Linked DNA regions of Homo sapiens: all the other regions are linked to region 1. The links come from fine-mapping of genetic effects on gene expression. A gene starts in region 1. Each other region holds a variant in brackets. All regions are shown on one strand. Distances are between the middles of the regions. Region 1 holds the start of TBXAS1 (thromboxane A synthase 1). Region 2 overlaps TBXAS1 (thromboxane A synthase 1). Region 3 overlaps TBXAS1 (thromboxane A synthase 1). Region 4 overlaps TBXAS1 (thromboxane A synthase 1).

Region 1 (5,149 bases):
GGGGCTAACCATAAGATTTACCCGCTAGGTGTGTGTATGAGGATTAAATGAGTTGACACATAGGAAAGCTCCTAGAATAACTAGTGTGTAGTAAGCACTCAAATGACATGATCATGATCAATTGTTATTATTCATATTTTCAGCCATCAGTGCTCTCTGGCTCGACACCTCCACTCAGATGTCTCCAGGGCATCTCAGGCTTAACAAAACTGAATCAGAATTCTTGATTTTCCCAACAATACCTCACCTTTCCCAGACTCCCTGTTTCAATGAATGGCACCTGATATACCTGTAGCTCAAGTTTGGAACCTGAGGGTCAGGTGTGGTCCTCCTTTCCCCTTCCCTTTCATATGCACCCCACCAGGAACTTCTGCAGAGCATGAACCCACCCCCAAAATATATTTCAAGTCCATCTACTTCTTCCCACCTCCCTCTCTCCTCTAGCCAAGCATCCCTTCTCTCTGGGTGAAGGCAGCAGCCTTCTGTGTGCCCTCCCTGTCTTTTCTCTCACTCCTTTCCAGGGAATCTGCACCTGTGACCACAGCCTTCTGTAACAAATGTACCTGTGACCATCCTAAGACCTGTGGGGGCACAGAAAAGGAAGCCCATAGCTACCCCTGCTGGCTTTTGGTGTCCATTTGCATGAAGTGTCTTTTTCCACCCCTTTACTTTAAGTTTACATGAGTCCTTATGTGTCAGGTGAGTCTCCTGAAGGCAGCAGATAGTTAGTTGGTGAGTTCTTATCCATTCTGCAGTTCTGTATCTTTTAAGTGCAGCATTTAGGCCATTTACATTCAGTGTTAATATTGAAATGTGAGGTACCATTGCATTCATCGGGCTCTTTGTTGCCTGTGTACTTCTTTGTTTGTTTTTTGCTTTTGTTTTTTAACTTGTATTTTTGTTTTATAGGTCCTGTGTGATTTATGCTTTAAAGAGGTTCTGTTTTGATGTGTTTCCAGGATTTGTTTCAAGATTTAGAACTCCTTTTACCAGTTCTTGTAGTGGTGGCTTGGTAATGACGAATTCTCTCAGGATTTGTTTGTCTGAAAATGACTGTATCTTTCCTTCATATATGGTGCTTAGTTTCACTGGATACAAAATTCTTGGCTGATAATTGGTTTGTTGAGGAGCCGGAAGACAGGGCCCCAATCCCTTCCAGCTTGTAGGTTTTCTGCTGAGAAATCTGCTGTTCATCTGATTGGTTTTCCTTTACAGGTTACCTGGTTCTTCTGTCTCACAGCTCTTAAGATTCTTTCCTTTGTCTCAACTCTGGATAACCTGATGACAATGTGCTGAGGCAAAGATCTTTTTACAATGAATTTCCCATGTGTTCTTTGTACTTCTTGTATTTGGATGTCTAGGTCTCTAGATGGCTGCAGAAGTTTTCCTTGATTCTTCCCCCAAATATGTTTTCCAAGCTTTTAGAATTCTCTTCTTCCTCAGGAACACCAATTATTCTTAGGTTTGGTCATTTAACATAATCCCAGACTTCTTGGAGGCTTTGTTCATATTTTCTTATTCTTTTTTCTTTGTCTTTGTTGAATTGGGTTAATTTGAAGACCTTGTCTTTGAGCTCTGATTTTCTTTCTTCTACTTGTTCAATTCTATTGCTGAGACTTTCCAGAGCATTTCACATTTCTAAAAGTGTGTCCAAAGTTTCCTGAATTTTCAATTATTTTTTCTTTAAGCTATTTCATTGAATATTTCTCCCATTCAATATTGGGGGATTGTGTTGGGAGAGGAGGGTCTCCCTTTCCCACTTCCGCAAATGGGGCACTCACAGTATTTGGAGTGTCTTCTGGGTCCTGCAGGAGCAGTCTGGTTCCTTCAGAGAGTCTGTGGGTCCTTTTGGGATTGCTGGTTTTTTCTTGCAGTTGATCTGGAGCTAAAATTCACCATGGAAGCCTCCAGATGCTGCTCTGTCTGAAGCTGCAATCTAGTCCTGCCACCCAGCCACTATGATCCCCTCCATCTCTCTGTCCACTTTAGTCAGATAAGCTCAAAGCTAGAACAAAGGACCCATATATGAGCCTACGGATCTGCCTTCAAACACTTGAGAAGCCCTCCAACTCACCATGAGAACACTGACCCCAATCGGGATCTTTGCTTTGCTCCAACAGCCAGACACTCAGACAGGTCCTCAGACCCAGCAACTAATGGACTTGGTGGGATGGTTGTCCTCAAAGCAGCCAGCATTTTGATCAGGCTGGCGTCTGGTCCTGTATTTTTCTGGGATATTCAGAATCTCTTGACATGTATCTTCACTTAATTGTGAATTTAAAAAATTATAGATGGATGTAGATATAGATATAGATATAGACATAGAGATAGATATAGATAGACATTTTGGAGAAGAGTCTCTCTTTGAAGACTTCCTCTCAGAGTACAAGTCCGTGGTTACAACCATTTTGTTTCTCAGCAAACATGGGGAAGTTTGCTTTTCTTCTCTGAGGAAGTTAATATAAATGTTTATTGACAGTGCAGTCATCAAGGAATAAAGTTGCTGATTCATTCCTTTACACTGAAACCCTTTGTTGTGCCCTCCTCTTCCTTCCTCTTTATAGGGAGACACTCTGAGAAAGAGCACATTGTGGGGGCCCACTCCATGTGATGTTTGCTTGGTTGCCTGTTCCCTTTTCTACCTGCAGAGCACGGTTCCCATAAGGGCGGCGAGATCAGCCTCCTGTCTCATCTGGAAGACCACCACTCTGGGGTCTCAGAGGAATGATGGAAGCCTTGGGGTTTCTAAAATTGGAAGTGAATGGCCCCATGGTGACGGTGGCCCTGTCAGTGGCTCTCTTGGCCCTCCTGAAATGGTAAGTGCAGCCAGCCCTAGGGACTGTGACAGCGTCAGCCGTCTCACCCTGGAGCCTTGCTGGTGCCATGGCGGGGTATGTGGGAGTGTGTTTTTCTTCTTTTCTAATCTAGCGGGAGTGAGTATTAACACAGCTTCAGAATTAAAAGCAAACAGCCAGGTTAATCTTTTGCTAAAATGCATGAGATTGAAGTGTCAGGAAAGGCTGGTGATTCAGTGACTGAGAACGCTACACATAATTAAGTTTGAAAGAGATGGAAAAAGAAACAAATTGGAAAGGCATTAGGTTTGGGTAGAAGCATTTCCTTGAACCCCGTCATATCTCCTCACCTCATTTTTCTAAAATCCTCTGTCCTTGTTGGATTTACAGTGAATTCAGCCTCTTGGTTCATATTACATTCAAAACAAAACAAGACGTAGGAGCTGTTTGGCAAATGTGGGCCTCTTTGCAGGAAGTCATTGAGGGGGATTTCTGTAGGGTTAAGGACAAAGTGGTAGATCTAATTTCTCATAGTTGATAGAGGGAGATGGATTCTGATGAACATAGTGTGTGCAGCTCCTACAAAATTTGAGACCCTGAAAGGATCTCAAACTTGAACTCCGAGTTGCTCCCCTGTGGTTTTGTTAATTCAACAGCAAATTTTCCTAAGGCTGACTCTGGTGTCTGTAGGTCGAAGGCCTCATAATATGCTACATTTATGCATATTCGCCCTGTCAGTTAAACTTATTAGAGTTACCCATTCAATCAAAAGCACCTGGATTTAGATGGCTCTGGCTTTTGAGGGCAAAGTGAGTGGAAAAAATAATGGAGGACTGGAGTCCGAACAGAATTTTAATTTATGTTTTCAGTAGTAATAAAGCCTTCTCTAGATTAATAACTGGGAAAGCACTTTGAAAAGCATCAAGCATTATGCAAATGTGAGGTATTATTCTTTTGGAATTTGCATAGCTGAGAGTGGAATTCACGTTTGATGTTCTATGATGATGAAATTACTTCTTGGAAATTGGCTCTGAAACCCAGCCTCAGTCCCAGTGCTGTTTTTCTTTTTAACTGGTTTAATTTTTTTTTTGAACTTTTTTATCTCATTGTAGCTTACCTTGGATTGAAACTGGCCACATGTAAAACCAAGAGCAAATGGTAGCTCCTTCCCTACCCCCAGCCCCCAATAATCCATCTCAATGTGTTTTTATGCTCCGGGAAGCCCGAAGCACAGTGTCTGACATGCAGAAAGTGCTTAGTCGATGTCAGCCACTATAATTAACCATCTATCATCTATGTAACCTAAAAGAAAATAAGTCTTTAGTGGTTTAGGTTTATTTTTAATTTCTTACTAATGTGCTTATTCATATTAATCTCATCAATAGCTATGCTCTGACTGTGGTTCTCAAAGCGGACACTTTTTTACACTTTTGTTTCAGTCTTTGTTGTGTCTGAGCCTCCAGCTCAGTGCCTGCCATGTAGGAACACCACACCATTCAGCAGGGCAGCTATGTGTTTGCTGTCTATTCTTGGGCCATATTAATAACCTGGTTCAAAGATGCAGAGATTAAGATAAATGTACCAAGCAGAAGTGGTAAACAGGAAGTGAGAGCTGACTTCTATTTGTTATTGCAAAAATATTTATTAACCTGTTAATGTGTGCCCAGTCTGGAGGAGGCCCTGGTACAAGGTCAGGAAGCAGGAGATCTGGAGAAGGTGCCCAAGGCAGGGGAGACACAGAGGTTCTGGGGGTGAGCTGGATGTCTAGAGAGGATACTGCAGGAGGAGCAGAGGCAGCAGGAGAGAGGTCACGGCCCTGGCTCTGGTGCTTTTGGGTCCATCCCTTGATTCAGTGCAAGGGGAACCACCCTTGGGCTTTCAACCCTTCTGTTCCGGGTGAGACTCTAGTCAGCCACTAAGCAACAGCCACCAGCTTGAATGAGGCAAGGCCCCCTTCCTGCTTCATTGTCTTGAAAGGATATGTGTGGAAGAGACAGGGGTGCTTTTCCTCCAGTGAGAGGATTCACAGGCAAGGAAAGATGGAGGTGTAGAGACACTTGCAGGAGAAACTGGCAGGGGGAGTGGATTAAACATTGCAGCACATTAGTCTTTGCTTTAAGTGTTACATGTGCCATCCAGCCAGGTGAGATGGCAGCAGAGAACCTAAACCCTGAGAAGGTGAAATCAAATGGGCTGGGCGCGGTGGCTCATGCCTATAATCCCAGCACTTTGGGAGGCCAAGGCAGACAGATCACTTGAGGTCAGAAGTTCGAGACCAGCCTGGCCAACATGGTGAAACTCCATCTCTACTAAAAATACAAAAATTAGCTGGGCATGGCAGCAGGTGTCTGTAA
Region 2 (5,149 bases), 110 kb after region 1:
TCTAGTCCTTTCTGAATTTGTAAGTAGTCTTTGGACTTTTGTTATCAAACATCAGAGTTTATTCTTGAAATAAAAGTTTGTTTCCCCTTGGAATTCTGAGGCTTTCTCCTTTAGAACCTTGGCAGCCTAAGTCCCTCTCTACCTGTGTCTTTAAGTATGGTCAATATTCAAAAGCTTTGGATGGCGTTGTCTTCGTTTATGCGGATATTAGGTTGCCTCAGTCAACAATGCTTGAAAATGGCTTTAAAATGAGCATCATATCATGAAGCCATATTTGTATTTAAATTAAAATTGTTTTTTTTTTTTGGCCTATGTCATACCAGGGATAATATAGAGCAACAGAGAACCAGGGAAAATGTGATTCATGCATCTCCAAGTCAGGAAAAAGAGACTATTGGAATCATAGCCAGCGACAAACAAGTTATTGGGATTTATAGAAAAGGATGGCTGAGCATTCCTGGAAAAACAACTGACTTTTTGTTGTTGTTGCTGTTGTTAGGGAAGATTTTGTCTGCTTAACTGGCCAGAGTTTTCACTCCATCCCCCGAAGAATTGACGTTTTAAAAAGCACAACTGTAGATTTAGATTTTCACAGTCTTTTGCTAGATTCTTTACCAAAGACTATTAGTGAGTAGTAACCCTGGGATTGTGTAAAACTTTATTAAGGATGAGGGAATAAATAGGTTTAATTTCAGGAAATAAAACTGGGGCTAAATTAGTACTTCTCTGACGGAAAATGTATAAATAATGTGATCCCCTGGGGACCCAGGTTAGCACTAGATTTATTTTTAAATTTTATAACTCATCTGAAAGAGAGAGAACACAGTGGAATCTATATATTTGTATATTCCTCTAAGCTGTTCTGATTTGAAAGATATTAAATCAATAGGAATAACTTTCTGAGACTCTTGTAAGATTGCATAAGTCAGCACAAAAGTGGCAGGTAACCTTCAGTGTAAGCAAGAATAAAAGAATACATTTAGGAGAAAGGCATCTAAACTGTACTTATATGATGATGAATTTCAAGCTATGAATTACTACCAGGGAAAAGGATTTGAAATATGGAGGACCGAAAAGGCCCCATAGTCAAATAATTTGGTGAAATATTACAAACTATATTCTTCAAGATTCACCATGTACCTGAGCATATGAAAGGCTTGAGAAAGGCCTGCAGTAAAGAAACCTGCTTAACTTTGTTTATTCTGGGCTCAAATAGGTTTTCAAAAGGAGAGAACGTGGGTTGTTAACTTCCTGGTTGGCTACTGAGAGAAATGAGTCTCTTGAGCAATTATCCTTTGCAGGTAGCTTCCATGAAGAACCCAGTTTTTGAGTGCCTCTAGCAGAGACTAAGCTTCAAACCTCATTAACCATGGATCCAATCCAATATGGCAGCTTGTATGTTCTCCATTCTCAAAGCCCAATATAAATGATGGGCTTTCTTCATTCACCCAGATAACTAAGAGCTGATGGTACCCCATTGAGCAGATATGGGAGACAATGAATCTTCATAGATGAGTGCCTAAGGATATATGTGTCACTCAAGAGTAAATGAACCAATCATGTTGCTATGCATAGGGACTCAGTTAAAGAAAAGTCAGATAAAATGGGAGGCTGGTATCTCGCACAGCACTGATCCGGCTCTCTGCCTAATTTTTCACTTTTCATCCAGATGTTCCCCGTCAAGAAGGCACAGTCAATAATGTATGAATCTTAAAGGCAGAGGCAGATGTGGTTATTACTCCCTGTAGGCATTTCCTGACTTGGAGACGACATGTTACTCGAGAATGACTACAATTTTTAAAAATTTAAGTTGATATAGCCCGCTTATGAGTAAATGCATTTCAGTGCAAAAGTCTTTTCAGAATTACAGTCATCATCACAGTTTAGTTTGGCCTTTAAATTTTCACTGTAAACTCTCCAGATGGTCACATATGGGGGCTTCTAAGGCAGAACACGCTTCCCAATAACATTAGAGCAAGCAGCCTTCTCTAGGAGGCATCCATTTCCAGCAGTCTATTTTTAATATTTGCTTTTATTTCTTAATCCTCCTGAACAATAAAAATGAACGTCATTATAACCAAGTGTGGCTGTAGTCATCAATACTTCAGAGTCCAAAAATACATTGGCCTTGCCTGACCAGTTGCCCATTTTCTGGAATAGCTGGGTATTTATCTAGCAG[C/T]GAGAGACCATTATCCTGAGACACAGTCGTGTTCCACCGACACCTGATCTACTAATTAAAATCACTATCATGATGGACTGTTTAAATTCTGGTTTAAATGTTCCTTTTGCATTTGCATTTAAAAGAAAACACACTCCTCATCATGGGCACCCCAGCCTGGGTTATAATTTGGCTTTCCTTTGCCAGAATTATAATGTCACTCTGACTTGCCGCTGGTTAAATCTAAAAGAGCATCTAAATGTGCCTCACAGCTTGGCTGTTGCTTGGCAACGCCAGCAGCCACCTCCTCATTGGGGTGACTTCTAATTGGTCACAAGTCTTGACAGGAGCCACTGACTTATTAGAAATGACACTTGATTATTCACCTAGATGGCTAGAGCTGATACTTAGCAGCAGGAAATTTTGCATAAAAAGGAGTCGTGGATGTTTTTAATATCTGGGTGGCTTTTAGCGATGGTGTAGTGGAAGAAGGAAGTGATAAGTTTCATTAGTGGAAATTAATTTTTCATTTGTTGGTCACCAGTTTAGAGCACTTTAAGGCATTAATTTTTTCATTTTAAAAAAAAACCCAGAAATACGTTTAAATACCTTCCCCCACCCCCAGCAGCTGACCCTTACTTATTCAGAAAACCCTCCTCTGACATCAGCCCCAAAATATTGCCCCCAGGTCCACCAAGGGCCAAATCAGATGAAATGTTCAATTTATAAAGGTCAACAAATATTTATTAATTAGTTCCTGTTGTTAAGGAGTTTATAATGTAGAAGAGAAACAAGGTACATAAATCACTGCATTATTACCAATCGTGGAAGGTGGTGACAGAGCTGGGGTCCTGCTTTGAGCATCAGAAGCCACTTTGGCAGGGAGGAAGCAGTGAGTAGCACCGGAATTGAGCTCTGAAGATTTTGCTGTTTTGACAGAGGGAGAAGGTGCATTGCAGGTGGAATGAGCTGCAGGAATCAAGGCATCTGGACAGAAAAGTACAGGGTATGTTCAGGGAATAGGGGAGTACAAATTGGCTGGAACACAGAGTACATGTAAGGGATTAGTGAGAAAGAAAGCTGAAAAAGTAGGTTGAGGCACGTACAGTTCACTGTTCTGTGCCGAGAGAGTGTTTGGTGCACACTTCACTAGAGCTCGAGGAGCTATTAAATACTTGAAAGTGAGGGAGTGACCTGCTCAGAACTCTGTGTTAGGAAAAAGGGTTTCATTTCAGCTGTTTAGCCCCCAAGCCAGCCATTTCCCAGACCCATGGGGCAAATCTTTCTGGTGCAGATGAGGGGAACTGTGAATTGTCTGGAGGAGTCTCCTCTTTGTAGTAGCCCCAAGTATGGGCAGGCTCCCAGGGGCCATGTTATGACATCAAGGCAGCGGTGTCCACTGTGGCTCTTTTGAGTCCCTCTTCGTGTGTGGATCAACAAGTCACCCAAGCTACACACCATCAACGTTTGGGGCTTATCTCTGTTTAGATGGATAGGGTTATGTAAAAAAGACCCTCTCCTTCCCTCTCTCTGTGTAGGAAATATGTTTTCCCTAGCACTCAGCATTGTCCAAACTTTCAGGAACTCCAAAGGCTTAAAGATGGTGGGTTTTTTCTTTCTCAAGTTTATGACATAAGATCTGCACAGAATGACCTAGAAGTGAATAAACTAAGGAGCAAAGGAAATGTGGAGGCTGAGTTTTGTGGGAAAGCAACAAGCCAGGAGTCAGGATATCTGGGGTTCCAATTCTCATTTGAACACAAAAATAACCAGATTCTGCCCTTTAGGTCCCTATGTATTCTGAAGTTGATGTGTCAAAGAAATGACAAAAGGCTTTCTTGGGAATGGGATGTGTTGCTGAAAGCACATGGACCAATGATCTGACACTTCCCTGCACTGAGCTAAGAATTTGGCTGCTCTCTCCATGGCTTCAAGCAACTGTCTCAACCTGATGCTTTGTGACCTCCTTGGAATCTTCAAATGTCAGTGGAAAGGGACATTATAGCTCATTGCGATCAGCCCTTCATTTAGGGATGAGGACCCACGTTCAGAGAGATTCAAATGCCAGGTCCAAAGTAACACATAGGACCAGCATGAGTCTCAGCTTTCTTCTTCAGAGCCAGTTTTCAGCAAACCACACTGTATTCATGCTAAGAGACAGTGCCTCAATCTGTTCATGTTTCTTGGGTACCTTCTATGTCAAGGCTCTCAAGGAACATTTGATCAATCAGTCATCACACAGGTATTTCTAGAAAATCAACAGAATGGGGTGTGCTATGCTCATTCTTGATATAACAAATACCAAAAACTTCATTAATCCATGACAACATGCAATAGTTACCACAAAAGAGCAATATTGAGAGTGTATTAGTTATCTATTGCTGTGTAACAAAATTACCCCAAAACTTAGTGGCTTAAAACAAACTTTTGTTAGCTCATTGTTTCTGTGGGTCAGGAATCCTGGCATGGCTTAGCTGAGTGCAAAGGCTGAGTCCAGAGGGACTGAGGGCTGAGGCCAGAGGGATCAAGGTGTCTTGGAGTAGTAGTCAAATGGCTGGCCTGATCTGTGGTCTCATCTGAAGGCTTGACTGGGGGAAGATCTGCTTCTAAGCCTCATCACACGGTTATTAGCAGGATTCAATTCGTAATGGACTTTGGAAGATAAGAATCTTGTACTGTGTCCTTCAGTCAGTGGGGATCTACAAATGTTTCAGCAAAGCATTACTGAAATAACAAGTATTTTTGGAAGATCTGGCCAGGCATGGTGGCTCATGCCTGTAATCCCAGAACTTCAAGAGGCCAAGGTGGGAGGATCGTTTGAACCCAGGAGTTCAAGACCAACTTGGGCAACATAGGGAGACCCCGTTTCTACAAAACATTAAAAAAATTAGCCAGCTGTGGTTGTGTGTGTCTGTAGTCCCAGATATTAATACTTGAGGGGCTGAAATGGGAGGATGGTTTGAGCCCAGGAGGGCAAGGATGCAGTGAGCT
Region 3 (5,149 bases), 58 kb after region 1:
GTGGGTACCGAGAGAGCAGCTTCCTGCTAAACTTCCTGCTGTGGGTGAAGGGCAGCGTTTAAAGAGTAAGATGGTGCTCCCCATTCCAGCAAACACTGGCCACAGTGGACAGTCCAGGAGAGAGCTGTGCACCAGGAAGGTGTCAGCTGGACAGTAGTCAGGCGTCCAGTAAAGCAGCGATGAGGAGGCTGTCAGTGGACACCAGGGCCCCACTAGTGGGTGGTTCAGGAACCTGAGAAGCCCCCGGCCCTGAGAAAGGAGTCTAGGTAGTACAGCAGGGTCTCAGCGGTGAGGGCTCTGAGGATGAACCAGGAATTGACATTCAGTTCTAAGATTCACAGCATCATGTGAGGCCCAGGACCAGAAGCCAGACCTAATCTCCGATATCAGTCAGGGTGGACAGGTCCATCATGGTTGGAACAGATCCATGCTGGAGAGGCACCGAGTCTCATGATGTGTGGCTGGAGGTTGTTCCTGCTTCTGGGGCCAGGGCTGGGCCTGCAGATGAGGGACAGAGCACCTGGCTAGAAAGGAGAGAGGACTGCAGCGGCTGGAGCGTCAGCCACAGATTTTTAATTTTGCTTTCCTTGATATTCACATCCAAAATCTACCATGGAGAACTGTATATCACGTTCAAGGTGGAAGGGAACTAACTCATTCCTCATTAGTAACTATCAAATATGGCATCAGTACCTTCTTTATCCTGTAAGTGACAGCTCTGCACAGATGTGTTCCCAATCGATAGAATGTCTCAATTAAAGTTGCATAAAAGCTCTATTTTGAGCTAATATCTTCAAATAATAAATTCCACATTTAATTGAAGCGTACCTGCAACAAATCCAAGTTGTTCAACCCAAAATGCATAATAGAGTATGTAAAACAGTCATGAATCACTGTGACATTTGTCAAGGCATTCTCCCATCTGGAAGCAGGTCCAGAAAGCACATGGCTGTATGCATATATCTTTTGTCAAGAACTTTGCACAGACAGTCTCAAAAAGTGCACACATTTACCCAATTCTTAGGGCTCTTCACTCTGATTGAGAATGCAAATAGCATTCCTATTCTATCTAAAAAGAAGAAAGACAAGCCATCTTTGATTTCAAAATTTAAAAGAAATTATTACTAAATTTGAAGAAGCAATGAGTTCCCAATTCACTTAGAGCTTAAAGTTCCTCTTTCATCACTATTTTGTGAGCAGAGGAACTTTTTCCAAACAAGTTCTTAGAAATCCTTGCTTGATTAAAAACCAGTTCTAAATCTTGTTACTCACATAGGGCAAAAGGTAAAGGAATCTAAATGTCTAAAACCAAATTAACTCCAGATACTAGTGTGAACTTTCAAGCAAAAAAAGTCACACACCACCGCATACACGTTTGAAATTCTACTAAATTTTGAATGTTTGACGTTAGCCTTTAAACTGGAACATATTCTTCTTTCTTCCTTAGGATCTTTAAATCTTTTAAAGTTTGGGTTGTTTACTATGCATTCTAATTACTCCTGATCACTCTTATGTGTAACATTTCTATAGCTATGCACACAAAGTAATTCCTTAGCAAGGCCCCACCAAGTTTTATGATGCCTGCTTGCCTAGGGCAGATAATATAAACTTAACTACGAAAATAAGTTCTTTGATTATTCTTCGTATCTCAAGACCGTGCTCCTAACAACCTCTCCTCCATCTCACCCTCAAGCTGCAAGAATTTTGCAACCCACTCTATGAAGTTTTTCCACCCTGAGTAAGGCTGTCAGTTTATTGGCCTATTTATAAAGGTCTGACTCTCTGACATGTTCTCCAGGCTCCCCACATTAACCACTAAGGAGGCACTCTTTGCAGATGAATTTTTTTTTTTTTTTTTTTTTTTTTGGCCTCGGCTTAAAGAGGAACCTATTAACCTTTGCCCGGAATCTATGGCTGGTGAATGGCTTGTCATAGCATGTTAGTTTGATGAGGCAATTGTGGTCTTTTTTGTTAAAACACCCCCCAGCACCTCTTGATACTACTTGGCCTACTGGAGATGTGGGCATCCAGGATTGAATCAAAACTACTGCACTTCACAACAGAGCTACTGCAGGAAGGAAATCCAGGTACTCCCTGGCTTGTGCCACCTCCATCTTTTCCGTGGCTAATGTAATGCCTAGTGCATATTCACCACAAAGAGGCAACTGTTGAATGGCTCTTCCATTTGCCTTTGAAGATTGCTTGTAACTCTTCAAGTTCACTTCTTCATCTCACTGCCAGACCACAGCTTGAGACTGATGATTGACATGGCCACTAGGTTCTTCCCAAAGACTCCAGCCTAAAGATTGTTAGCTGCTTCCCCCAAAGGCTTAGCCTTCTCTGCTAGAGTTTTGGTTCTTTGGAGCATCCCATGAGCAAGAAGCCTCAGCTCTTTGTCCTCCTCTGTGTAGGAGCCCACAAGGATGCTTTATCTCCAATCTGGAATGGACACTTAGCATCCT[G/T]AGTTCTGCCCTGCTCAAAATCCATACCTGTTCATGAGTACCAGGGCTTCAGGGCCCGAGAACCCACAGCTAACACCCATAGGAGAAAGGTTTCATATGAGTAGGTGGGATGGGTTTTCATGCCTCTACAACCTGGCCAGCAGGAGGAACACTGTGACCCATGGTTTCAGAATTGATGGTCTCCCACTTCTCGGTTAGATCTAGGTATTGAGAATAACCTGAAGGACATTTGGCTGGAGGACATTATTTTTATTGTGTTAAAATATGCATCACACAAAATGTACTCTCCTATTTTTCATTGTATAGATCAGTTGCATTAAGTACCTTCACATTGTCGTGCAGCTATCATCATCGTTCACATCCAGAATTTTTTTCATCTTGCAAAGCTGAAACTTTGTCCTCATTAAACATTAACTCTCCCTTCCCTCCTCCCCCAGGCCCTGACAACCACCATTTTACCTTCTGTCTCTACAAATTTGACTACTCTAAGTACCTCAATAAAGTGGAATCATATGGTATTTTTCCTTTTGTAACTGGTTTATTTCACTTAATATAATATCCTCAAGGTTAATCCATGTTGTAGCACATGGGAGAACTACTGCCTTTTTAAGGCTGAGTAATATTCCATTGTAAGCCTATTCTGCCTTTTGTTTATTCGTTTGTTTGTAGATGGCGGAGTGTGTTACTTCCAGCATTGAGCTAATGTGAATAATGTTACTTGAATATGGATGTGGAAATACCTCTTTGAGACCCTGCTTTTAGTTCTTTTGGGTATATATGCAGAGGTGGAATTGCCAGATCACAGAGTAAATCTATTTTTAGCTCTTTGAAGACCGTCATACTGTTTTCCATAGTGACCATACCATTTCACCTTTGGAGGACATCTTATAGCAATGCTTTGTTGTCCCCTTTTCACCACGATTATGTGGCCATTACTTCTTGTTTTCAAACCTTGAGAGTGAGCTCAGGTTAAATTTACACTTCCCTTTGTGCCCTGGATCCCAACTGGTCAAGGTGAACCACACATTTCTAATTGGAATGTATGACCCCAGTGACTTTGCCTGTAACTTCCTTTTGGCTAGGCCAGTAAGCGCATTTTTAACCAAACCGACCCCATTATCAACAAATGCTTGCACTGCACGATAAATTCAGTTTGCTTTAATAAATTCCCAGTAGTCCTCACCCAGAGCTCCTTCTCCTCTTATCTCACTCCTTGCTGCCAAACCCTTTACAATTTATGTGTCTGCCTTTCGGTTCTGCCTTCAGCCCCCTCCAAGTTTCCTCTTTCCCACCAGCTCACTGTGGCCTTTGTGTCTCACATAAATTTTGTCTTCTGTGTCTGAAACTCTTACTGACTTCTGCTTCCTTGTTCCCTGGGTCTACACTGTTCCTTCTCTTCCTGGAACTGACCCTTCGATCTCTGGGCTTCCTACCTTGAGTAATTTGTCAAAATCCTGTTCTTGCAATTGGTGGCTTCTCAATTTTTTTCCTCTGGGTTTTTTTCCCACAGTCTTTCCACTATATCACAGGGCATACACTCCTGCTTCATGACTGTTCATGACATATTGAATTCCCCTCTTGTACCCCACAGTCTCTGCACTGAGTGTGTGCTCATTGGGAAAGGTTAGCTCACATTATACCTATCCAAAAAAGGAGAGGTGGCAGGTGGCCTGTGGAGAAGAGTGTATCCAGGCACATATGCATGGGAGAAAGTTCAGAGGTTTTGGCTGAGATAGAAAGAAGAAGAGTAGAGGCCAAATGTGTGCTAGGAAAATGTGATGTTTGGGGCACAAGTAGAGAGGACAACCTTGGCAGTGGCAGATGAGAGAGAACCTCAGGACTGGTGCTAAGGAGGTGGGTTATTTAAAGAAAGTTGTGCAGGTATAGAGTGGAGAAGGGGTGCAGGGGGAGGATGGAATTGAGTTAAAAAAAAAAACTAGCAAAAAACATTCTGATAGCACAGGTGAGAGAGATAAGAGTGATTTAGATTATCAGAAATGGAAGGAAAAGAAGGAGAATTTTATAGAGAAAGTGTCCTGTAGTGGCCGGGTGTGGTGACTCGTGCCTGTAATTCTAGCACATTGGGAGGCCGAGGTGGGGAGATTGCTTGAGCCCAGGAGTTTGAGACAGCCTGGGCAATATAGTGAAACCACATCTCTACAAAAAATACCAAAATTAGCTGGGTGTGGTGGCATGTGCGCCTGTTGTCCCAAGTACTTTGGAGGCTGAGATAGGAGGATCGCTTGAGCCAGGAAGGCAGAGGCTGCAGTGAGCTGAGATCATGTCACTGTAATCCTGTCGAAAAAAAAGGAAAAAAAAAAAAGAAAAGAAAATGTCCTAAAAATGCAGCAAGTCATTGATTGTAACAAGTAAGAGATGAGTCAACATTAATCACTGAGGCTGACTTCAAATGCTGGAGACAACATGGTGATTCCACCATAATTAAGAGGTTGAACAGGGCAAAGACAAAATAGTTTTATCTTTTTCTTAATCCGTTGGAGCTTGTCCTCATCCTCATGTGTTCAAGCTGTTATAACAAAGTGCCATAGACTGGGTGGCTTATGAATAACAGAAATTTATTTCTCATAGTTGTGGGGACTGGGAAGTCCAAGATCAAGGAACCAACAGATTCATTGTCTGGTGAGGGCTCACTTTCTGGTTCATAGATGGTGCCTTCTCACTGCACC
Region 4 (5,149 bases), 130 kb after region 1:
TTCTTCTTTTTTGCTTCCAAAGATAAAAAATGCTTAAGCTAAAATAGACGTTTAGAGCTATTGTATTTTATGAATATTTGTGAATTTTAGGATCTTCTTCTTGAATCTTAGCTGTGTGAAAAATATCTTCCAAACAGTGTTCATTTTCCCAGAAAGCACTACATATAACCTCTTCATCTGCAGCCAATTTAGGTGTACTCCCGGCATGGTGCCCTAATTACACCTTTGTTATCCATTATCAGATGGTTCCCCTCATCAGCCAAGCCTGCGACCTTCTCCTGGCTCATTTAAAACGCTATGCGGAATCTGGGGACGCATTTGACATCCAGAGGTAAGGCTGCTGCATTACAGATGAGAAATCGAGTTTTTGAATCACTGCTTCTTGTAACTGTCCATAATTGCTGACAATTACCTTGGGACTAGCAAACTGTGGAAACGCTAGAAGCTCATAAAAGCATGGATGGACTGATTAATAAAAAGAAAAGAAACCCACTTAACATGGGAAAGAGATGTGAGCAGAGCCAGGGTACGTGCGTCCTGTCGAACCTGTGGATGGATCCACCCTCTGACCTCCACAGACCCAGGAATGGGCAGGACAGGCCTGCGCCTAAGGACAGGGATGGGGGGAAAGTTCAAGCATTTTCACTTCAAGAAAAATTGTGGTGCACCTCAGCCCAGAAGCTATAATTTAGTGGTGGACACCAAATTTAAATAACTGATTATCTGGCTTTTCGTCATTTTGTAACTAAAAGGTTTTTGCTTTAAAAAAACATCTTTAGTCTAAGTTTGTCCGACCCACAGCCCGCTGGCCACAAGCAGCCCAGGATGGCATTGAATGTGGCCCAACACAAATTTATAAACTTTCTTAAAACATTGTGAGTTTTTTTGCAGTTTTTTTTTTTCTCATCAGCTATCGTTAGTGTTACTGTATTTTATGTGTGGCCAAGACAATTCTCCTGCTTCCAACGTGGCCCAGGCAAGCCAAAAGATTTAGCCACCTTTGCTTTAGTCATTTTATGCCAAATCATGGCTTACAGCAGATAAAGAATAAAGTGGGATGGTGAATCATCCAGAAATTTATTCATTATTATCATTGCTAATAAAATAATAACATAATCATCACCAACACTGGTATTGCACCAGTTTACACAGTCTTTTCATCCACATTGTCTCTGATTATTATAGGATGCATGAGTTGGCTAAAGATAAGGTGGCCTCATCAGCTATAAAAGCAAAGTAAATAACCCTCAAGACCCTTAAATCTTCAACCTTCAGGATCAGATGAAATCACATTCAGTAGTCTCATTCTTGTTTTCACTCTAGCAGGGAAACGTGTAATCAGTTGTAGAAACGTTTTCAATAAAAGCAGTGTGAATTTTAAAAGTCATCTGGAAACGTCATGTATTCCTTAATGATAAGTTAGTGGTTATAGAATTCATGTACAAAAGGAGTTAAGTGTGTGCCTACATTGAGAACAAAAATTGGCCTTTTAATTATAAAAAGATATTAATAACCCAGTTTTTAGCTTTTTGGAAAAGAACTTAATCTGACTACTCCTATAAGATAACAAAAAGAATCATTTGAGTTTAAAATGGCCTTTTGAGGGGGCAGCTTTCCTATAGCCTAAGAGGTTAAATTTTCTGGAGCTCCTGCCAGACACTTTTCCTTCTGTTTGTTTCTAAAGCACAATGTATGTTTTCTGTAATAATATACAGATGTTCATGAAGCCTGCCTTAAAGTTTGTCTTGTGTTTATTTGAGTGCTAAGAGCCCTTGCTTTTTGTTCATTGCTATTAAGAAAACTGTAAAATCATTAAGAGGAAGAGGGAGACAAAGTTAATAAAACTAGATAATTAGGTTGTTAATTCATCAAGGACAATTTGATGTCTATCAGTCAATCATTAGATTCTGGCCTGAGCTGGGCTGTGCAGAGCTTTGGGTACAGCATGTAGGCGTTGGGTCACCTGTGTGCCCTCCTTCCCAGGGAGGAAACTATAAAGTGTCCTTCTTAGTACCTGGCTGTGTTCTGGTTGACCACAGCTGCCTGAGGCTCGAAGGTGGAAGAGGCTGTGCCCTCCTCTCCTCCCAGGTCTTTGTTTAGACGCCAGGTCTTCGTGTCTCCTCCCACCCTCTGCCGTCACTGCTCAGAGTGCCCCATCCAGGAGCCCATCTCCCTCCACCTCCCCCCAGATCTGCAGAAGCTCCTCTTCCAGACACATCTGCAGGGCTGGGCAAGCCAGTGTAAGCAATTCAGGCCCTCCTCCTCTGGAGGGGGCCATTGTGGGTAGCCCCTGCCAGAGTCCTTTCAGATCTCTGTGCTCCCATCTCCCGTAGGTGCTACTGCAATTACACCACAGATGTGGTTGCCAGCGTCGCCTTTGGCACCCCGGTGGACTCCTGGCAGGCCCCTGAGGATCCCTTTGTGAAACACTGCAAGCGTTTCTTCGAATTCTGCATCCCCAGACCTATCCTGGTTTTACTCTGTAAGTGCGGCTGCAGCCCGGGGCGCTGCGATGACTCCAGCAAGTTGGGCAGACCCCATGACACCTGGGGTGGCTTCTGGGGCTCTGTCCCTGCCACTGGGAAAGGGCACTCGGGTTGTTCCCCTGCAGAGGCTTTGTCTTATGGAGCCACCGGGTTCCTCTTGTCACCCGCCTAGGGCCACTTATTAGCAATGCTGTAGCCCTGGCATTGGTAATAAGTGGCCCCACCGCCATGGTGAGAACGGTTGGGACGCACCGTGTTAGGCACGGGGTGTGCGTTGCCTCACTTAGTCCTAGTACTCACCCTATGAGAAAAATATTCTTGTCCCTATTTCTCAGGTGTGAAACAGGCCTAGAAAGGCCGAGCTGAGACTGGAACCCAAAGCCTTTCATTTCCTAGGGCATATTTCTTTCCTTCAGCAAAATCCTCTTCACAAGACTTCTCCACTTGAAGCCCAACACACAGAAATCCTGTGTGGTGGATGAGGATTAGGTCACCCAATGCACGAGGACCAGTCTATTTATTTTATTTTATTTATTATTATTATTATTTTTTTAGATGGAGTTTCGCTGTTGTTGTCCAGGCTGGAGTGCAATGGCACGATCTCGGCTCACCGCAACCTCCGCCTCCTGGGTTCAAGCGATTCTCCTGCCTCAGCCTCCTGAGTAGCTGGGATTACAGGCATGCACCATCACGACCAGCTAATTTTGTATTTTTAGTAGAGAAGGGGTTTCTCCATGTCGGTCAGGCTGGTCTCAAACTCC[C/T]GACCTCAGGTGATCCGCCCACCTTGGCCTCCCAAAGTGCTGGGATTACAAGCGTGAGCCACCACACCAGGACTTATTTTATTTTTATTGTAGAAGTGAGATTTTGCCCTCTGGCCAATTCTAGTATCTTCTTGCTTTTATAGGAGCATTGACGTGTTGTTATGCTTGGTATTGATTATTGCCATGATTTCTAACCATTCTGCTGGGCTGGTAAATTCCATTCATTCCTTGACCAGTTTCATTCCCGTTTCTGAGCCGATGTCCATGGGAGCCCGTCACCTCACTGGCTCCGCCCTGAAATCGTAGGCAGAGTCACTCTGAGTGTCCAGCAGTCTCTTCCTGCACCCTTTCCACCGATCTTGGAGGCAGCGCAGGCTGTGTCTGCCCCTTGTGCCTCAACCACGGCCCAGGCCTGTGGGGCAGGTGGCTCAGTTGTGCCATCCCTTCTATTTCTCCTCTCTGCCTCTGCAGGGCCCTCCTGCTGCTGTGTCACATTGGTTCGGACTCTGGCTCTTGAAAATGGGCCTGCGCATTCTGAGAGCATGTGTGTCTGGAGATGTTCTCCCCAGCCCAGCTCCCATAGAGCCCGGTACAGGGTGAACCCACAATGGAAGCTGAGAAGCTGAACCCAGCCAGTGCCCCTCTCCAGGGGAGATGAGGGGTTCCTGACTCTGGCAGCCCGATCCCCAGCACATGGCAGCAAGGGCCCATGCTGCACCCAGGGGCCGGCAAGGGAGGCACCCACAGCAGCAACAGCCAGTACCCTTGTCAGCAGCTGCAGTGGCAGCTCTTGGGAGCAATTCAGGAGGTCATGCTGGGAACAATTATCCACTGGAAAGAAAATTCAAATGACCAGAAAGTTTGTAAAAAGTAAATCAGCTTCTACCACTTGCTAAGGCTTGAAACAGCCTGTAATCCTTTCTCTCTTAATGAAGTACAAAGACCTTCAGGTCTCATCCCCAGGACCTGAAACATTAATTTATGAGGGTGACCTTGACCTCTTGAGGGCCAGATGGAAGTGCAGACTCGATTAATTGCACAGATGTTTATTGAGTGCTTACTATGTGCCAGGAATGGTGAGGAGTACCGAGAGGGAGTGAGACATCACCCCTGCTCTCAGAAGCAGCAGTGCGGCGGGGAGGGCAGGACTCCAAAACGGCTCCGATTCCAGGCCCGCGTTTGCTTCCCGGGAACAGGCGTCTAATGGCCCTGGTTTATTATCACCCCCTTTTCAATGCCACTTTTGTTTTTCTCTTTCAAGTATCATTTCCATCCATAATGGTCCCACTGGCCCGGATTTTGCCCAATAAGAACCGAGACGAACTGAATGGCTTTTTTAACAAACTCATTAGGAATGTGATTGCCTTGCGGGACCAGCAAGCTGCCGAAGAGGTAACGTATTTTAATAGGACACAGCCTTGAAATGGAATGGAGCCGACTTTGGCATCACTGTCTCTGCTCTTTCTCTTCCCTCTCAGCCCCGCACATCACACCGTGCCGTCCTTCAGCAACCCACCACTTACAGCTTCCAGGGACAGTGGAGAGAACAGAGGAAGGTTGAGGAAGGTCAGACAAGAAAGGGAGGGTGGGACGGCAGAGAGAAGCCTACAGCAATGTGTACATCCTCGGACACGGACGGGTAGAATTAAAGCCGCCCCCAAAACTGTCTCCCTAGTGCAAGCATCAACCCAAGCACAGGTTAGAATAGCCCAGAAGAATTTTCTGGGTAAGTGTGCCCACATGCAATTTTCATGAGCATATTCTTTATATTGAAAACCCAGCAAGATGGAGTTCTCCAGCATGAACAGCATGCTTATTAGAGAGTTCGGCAACTGTCAGTCACTAACCCCACACTCCCACTCAGCATGGAGGATGTCGCTACAGAACTCGTGGTTGAGGGCC

What was found. PIP is the estimated chance that this variant, and not a neighbour inherited with it, causes the effect.
Region 2: its variant is fine-mapped to the expression of TBXAS1 in whole blood (INTERVAL, PIP above 0.99).
Region 3: its variant is fine-mapped to the expression of TBXAS1 in whole blood (TOPMed, PIP 0.94).
Region 4: its variant is fine-mapped to the expression of TBXAS1 in whole blood (INTERVAL, PIP 0.99).

What each region holds. Positions count from the first base shown.
Region 1 is chr7:139,826,664-139,831,812 of GRCh38, forward strand. It overlaps TBXAS1 (thromboxane A synthase 1), which reads left to right and starts at 2,601. Exons shown (of 13, transcript NM_001061.7): 1 at 2,601-2,816. The coding sequence starts at 2,728. RefSeq lists an enhancer at 2,274-3,473.
Region 2 is chr7:139,941,140-139,946,288 of GRCh38, forward strand. The region is part of intron 5 of TBXAS1 (thromboxane A synthase 1); the gene reads left to right. It overlaps LOC105375532 (a long non-coding RNA gene), which reads left to right. Exons shown (of 2, transcript XR_928043.3): 1 at 1-3,164; 2 at 3,946-5,149. Among named protein-coding and RNA genes, the nearest start is that of TBXAS1, 110 kb to the left of the region's middle. The variant C/T (reference allele first, on the strand shown) is at 2,180.
Region 3 is chr7:139,884,546-139,889,694 of GRCh38, forward strand. The region is part of intron 3 of TBXAS1 (thromboxane A synthase 1); the gene reads left to right. Among named protein-coding and RNA genes, the nearest start is that of TBXAS1, 58 kb to the left of the region's middle. RefSeq lists a silencer at 3,545-3,839. The variant G/T (reference allele first, on the strand shown) is at 2,463.
Region 4 is chr7:139,953,126-139,958,274 of GRCh38, forward strand. It overlaps TBXAS1 (thromboxane A synthase 1), which reads left to right. Exons shown (of 13, transcript NM_001061.7): 6 at 243-331; 7 at 2,334-2,482; 8 at 4,509-4,639. Among named protein-coding and RNA genes, the nearest start is that of PARP12, 110 kb to the right of the region's middle. RefSeq lists enhancers at 2,339-2,839, 3,771-4,271. The variant C/T (reference allele first, on the strand shown) is at 3,248.